Linked DNA regions of Homo sapiens: region 2 is linked to region 1. Evidence: fine-mapped expression QTL. Tissue or cell type: cerebral cortex. Region 1 holds a variant in brackets; the other region holds the start of a gene. All regions are shown on one strand. Distances are from middle to middle.

The links. PIP is the estimated chance that this variant, and not a neighbour inherited with it, causes the effect.
Region 2: it holds the start of PLPP6, and the variant in region 1 is the best candidate, but not a certain one, in a credible set for the expression of PLPP6 in cerebral cortex (GTEx, PIP 0.84).

What each region holds. Positions count from the first base shown.
Region 1 is chr9:4,025,421-4,028,183 of GRCh38, forward strand. The region is part of intron 4 of GLIS3 (GLIS family zinc finger 3); the gene reads right to left. Among named protein-coding and RNA genes, the nearest start is that of GLIS3-AS1, 130 kb to the left of the region's middle. The variant C/A (reference allele first, on the strand shown) is at 1,540.
Region 2 is chr9:4,660,942-4,663,572 of GRCh38, forward strand. PLPP6 (phospholipid phosphatase 6) reads left to right here and starts at 1,353. Exons shown (of 1, transcript NM_203453.5): 1 at 1,353-2,631. The coding sequence starts at 1,435. The coding sequence ends at 2,322. SPATA6L (spermatogenesis associated 6 like) reads right to left here. Exons shown (of 12, transcript NM_001353486.2): 2 at 958-1,095. RefSeq lists a silencer at 1,488-1,747.

The sequences.
Region 1 (2,763 bases):
CTCTGTGGCCAGGCTGGAGTGGGGTGGCGTGATCTTGGCTCACCGCAACCTCCGACTCCCTGGTGCAAGCGATTCTCCTGCCTCAGCCTCCCGAGTAGCTGGGATTACAGGCACCCACCACCATGCCTGGCTAATTTTTGTATTTTTAGTAGAGACGGGGTTTCACCATGTTTGCCAGGAGGGTCTGCGTCTCCTGACCTTGTGATCCGCCCGTCTCAGCCTCCCAAAATGCTGGGATTACAGGTGTGAGCCACTGTGCCTGGCCTGGCCCATGTTTTAGATCACATGATAGAATTAATCATGAGTCTCACATAATTATTAAAAATTTTAAGGACAGAGGATAGGCCACAGAGGTCTTATTATCAACTCAAAAGAAAATATTCATAAGAATTCAGGGGTAAGAAATATACTAACAGTATTTAAATCATGGTTTTTGCCCATGGGGAGTTTTATAAATGAAATAGCTCTCTTTTCTGGAATAATCAATAGATTATTGAGAAATAATAGAGAAAGAGACCTGGGTTATTCTGTATTATAATTAGGACAAAATGCTACAGGTAATGTTTAAAAGTAGAAGTCATGATAGGGAAGAACAAATTTGCTAACATAATCTATGCTTTGAGTCTAATCATAATCCCTACAACATTAACATTATTAATTATAAATAGTAAAAAACCTGAGACTATATGATTAGTCTACAAAGGCTTTCTTCCAACATCAAGATTATAAATGCACAGGTATTCAATCAAAGAGGCCCTCAACACTCCAGTGGCTATCTCAGTTTTAGTTGAAGAGAGTGGATTTACCCACGTAGTATTTACTGAGAAACAGTGTCATTAGACAGACTACAGACCAGTCTCAATCATCAAGTCATATAAACATAGGTCCATTAATTTTTTCCTAGCAAACACAAATTATTTTTATCATTGTACTATCTGAATAATAATGCTTTTCTGTTATCATGAAGCAACAATGCCTACAATGAGTTTCATTAACATGCACTGAAGTATGAAAGCTCAACAAAAGCATAAAAATCTATGTACTTTAAACTTTATTGTTCTCCATTTTCCAAAAAGCATTTGAGATGACCCAAAAAGGAGGAAAAAAATCTATCTATCTATCTATCTAAGTATACATATATGAGACAGAAGGAAAAAAATTCATCTGCATACATAATGCAGTTCAAAATAAAGTAATTCAATAAAACACAGATCATTTTGTGATAAATAATATACTTCTAAACCTAACTAGTAGATATTTTGACATCTCTTTTCTTTAAGCATATTTATTGGACTATTTTTAAGATATGCATTAAAGCACTTCTACCAATATCATTTTATCCATTCAAATTATCAGGGGAAAAAGAGGTAAAAGTGATAAAATTAACTTCTATTGGCCAAACACTGTAAATATGATCTCATTTAATCCTCACAATATCCTTTCAAGGTCGTGTTACTCTCTTATAGATGAAAAGAGAGAAACAAAGATAAAACTTACACACCTGAGAGGAGGTGGGGCTGAAGTCAAACCTAAGACTGT[C/A]TGACACTAAATTCCATGGAGTCTCATGATTTAAGGCCACATGTGGGAGAGGGAGAAGGAGAGGGAGAGAGCAATGGGGATCCTTTACATGTCAACCCTGCCCCATCTTTCTCTCAGCAATAAATGTGAGCCAAACCTTTGGACACAAACACAACCTGACCGACTGCAGTGTAATCAGTTCCACTCACACAGTAGTTAACAATCCACTGGGATGCAATGTTAGCAACCTGGCTAAAAGTACACATTTATTTAACTGAACAACGCTTAGCCATTTCAGCGTCACTACAATGACTGCAGAAGATTCTGAAAGATCCATCCAACCAGGTCTTTAAGGCACAAGAAGACAATGTAATTCACAAACAGTGTAATTTAGCAATTATTCACAGCAGGAGTTTTGCTAAAATAGTTCACAATTGGACATACTAGGATGCTTTTCTCATTCCCAGATTTGGTAAAGGACAATCAGTTCATTTGAGGACTGAAACATTTTCAAAATGCACTGTAAAATTAGACATATTCACTCCCCCCACCTCATCTAGGTTTGAGGCTCTTTTTTTCTCCCAATTCTATTGTTCAGTTAATCTGTGCATGCATGCCAGAATATTCTAATTTAAATCTGAGCCTGGAACATGCTATATTTTGTTTCTAGCTGCAAGAGTGTGAATGCCATAAATAACATGTACTGTGCTTGTTCTCTGTTCCTAAACAGTCTGATAAGCTCATACTGAAATCATTTCAGCAATCACATTTGACAGCTCTCTAGAATCCTGTTCTATCCAGCCTCCTAACCAGTCCATTATTTCTGCCAGTTTCCAGGCAGACGAGGCATTCAGACACCTGTCTCTAAATGAGAACAGACAGCCCCGGCGGAACCCTCGTAGGAGAGGTACGCTCCAGCTAATAGGCCATCAATCTGTCAGTGGCTCTTAAACCCCCTCAGCTTTGTCCAGCTGAAGGCCAGCTCAGAGCCTCGATCAAGGTAGAACCCAGTGGGTGAGAGTCACGTCAAGTCCATTCCAAGAGACCTGTATGCAAAGTTGTATGCTAGACCAAACCAGCGCAACCCGGATCCACTACAGCGGCAGCATAGTACTTATCTTCCTGTAACTCATTCATCCTTTAAATAAATAGTAATTGAACATCAACCAGGTCACAAAGACACCACGTGCCATAGAGAATTTTGAAGCTAGACAACTTCTAGGGTCCATTCCTGACTCCAATGCA
Region 2 (2,631 bases), 640 kb after region 1:
AACACCGCATGTTCTCACTGATAGGTGGGAATTGAACAATGACAACACTTGGACACAGGGTGGGGAACATCACACACAGGGGCCTGTCGTGGGGTGGGGGGAATGAGTTAATGGGTGCAGCACACCAACATGGCACATGTATACATATATAACAAACCAGCACGTTGTGCATATGTACCCTAGAACTTAAAGTATAATTTTTTTAAAAAAATGTGACATGCTCTACTCTGTAGCCTTCCTTCTCCCCAGATCTCCCTCAATGACATTGTTTGGGGCAAAATCATTAGACTTATTAAGGTTAAAATTGATTCCATCTCCAAATTCCAAAACAAAAATGTTAAGAGATTGTCAGTGATGACATAGTAATAACATCAATATTCTATGAATAGTTTAGTGTGAAGAAGGCTGGTAATGTTTTGACTATTTATATCACCATGTTATTCACCAGAATGGAATCTAGCCTTTATCACTGTAGCTAAATAATCTAGGTATGATCTGAGGAAACAGTAAATCTGAACAGCCTTTTTGTTACAGGATTTTAGTTACAGGATTTAACTAATTTCATTATTTTTTTTTCGCTATTTTTCTTGGTCTAACACAGTTTTTTCTAAGGTCCACAGTTTATTAATAATCCCTTTCGTAAATGTAATGCAATTACCTCTAACACCTCCAAAAACATTCAGAAATGCTCTCTTTGCTCCAGTTAAAAAAATGCCATGGGAGTTCCAAGAATAGGAAACATCAACCAGGGTATTTAGCACTAGATTGACAGAACTTGGCTCAGACCTGCATTACAAAAGCAAGTGTTCCGACTGCGGTTTTGCATTGTGCTGAAGTGCTTTCGGATAATTTTTTTAAAAATGAAATTTACCAAATAATGCTGTAAGAACTCTGTTCTTTATAAGAACTCTCAGGTTATCTTCAGACAACAAAAGCCAATGAGAAAGTCAAGATCACCTTTTCAAATCTCATGCTCTCCTGAATCATAATGGGGAACGCAGAGGGAAAGCTGTTGGTCTCCAGGTACTGATTCATGAGGTAGACCCCGAGGTACACATCTTGTTTGCCAGGCAGGAACACTCCTGGGCAAGAAATCTTAAAAAGAAAGAAAACAACAAACAAGGGAGAGAAAACAGACTTTGCTTTGTTTTGTTACACGGGGCTCTATTTCTCTTAAGCTCCTACAGACACTGACATTTTCCCCATCACCTCACTCCCTCACCTGTACCTCCCAACGCCAACATCCTCCCCTCTGCTCTCCTCACATTGGAAATTCCAACTCCCTCCCACGTCTCCACCAGGTGTCACAATCGCGCTCTCGCCGGCTCCTCTCCCCGCCCCTCCGGGATGGTAGTGCGGAAGCGGAAGAGGCTGCAGGGCCGGGAAGCCTCTGTTTGGTCCGGCCAGGTCCCGGGATCCGGGCCGCCAGCTGCGATGCCAAGTCCCCGGAGGAGCATGGAGGGACGGCCGCTGGGCGTCTCCGCTTCGAGCAGCAGCAGCAGCCCCGGCAGCCCAGCCCATGGCGGCGGTGGCGGCGGCAGCAGGTTTGAGTTCCAGTCCCTGCTCAGCAGCCGCGCCACGGCCGTGGACCCCACCTGCGCCCGGCTCCGTGCATCGGAGAGCCCAGTTCACCGCCGCGGCTCCTTCCCCCTGGCCGCGGCGGGCCCCTCGCAGTCGCCCGCGCCTCCGCTGCCCGAGGAGGACCGCATGGACTTGAACCCGTCCTTCCTGGGCATCGCCCTGCGCTCCCTGCTGGCCATCGACCTGTGGCTGTCCAAGAAGCTGGGGGTGTGCGCGGGAGAGAGCTCGTCGTGGGGCAGCGTGCGACCCCTTATGAAGCTGCTGGAGATCTCGGGACACGGCATCCCCTGGCTGCTGGGCACCCTCTACTGCCTGTGCAGGAGCGACAGCTGGGCCGGGCGCGAGGTGCTGATGAACCTGCTCTTCGCCCTGCTGTTGGACCTGCTGCTGGTGGCCTTGATCAAAGGGCTGGTCCGCAGGCGCCGCCCGGCCCACAACCAGATGGACATGTTTGTCACTCTCTCGGTGGACAAGTACTCCTTCCCCTCGGGCCATGCCACAAGGGCCGCCCTGATGTCGAGGTTCATCCTGAACCACCTGGTGCTGGCCATTCCACTGAGGGTGCTGGTGGTTCTGTGGGCCTTCGTCTTGGGCCTATCCAGGGTCATGCTGGGGCGGCACAATGTCACCGACGTAGCTTTTGGCTTTTTTCTGGGCTACATGCAGTACAGCATCGTGGACTATTGCTGGCTCTCACCCCATAATGCTCCGGTCCTCTTTTTACTGTGGAGTCAACGATGACACCATCTCATTGATTATGGCACCAGGAAGTCTGAAGGTTTCCACATTCGATGATGTCAACCTAAACCAGCAGCCATCCCGCTTGTCCCTCTTAGGCATTTCAGGCTTCCTTTGGGATTTCAGGTGTCCCATGATCTTGATGTGCTGCTAGGCTGGAGCACACACTGGCCATTACTGAACACAGCCATATTAGGGAAAGCAAAAAAACCCAAAAAATCCTCTATTGTATATTTATTCAACAACTGTTTATGTTTCCAGGACAACTGCAAAGAAAACAAGCTGAGGTGGTTATACTGTTGCTGTTAAAAG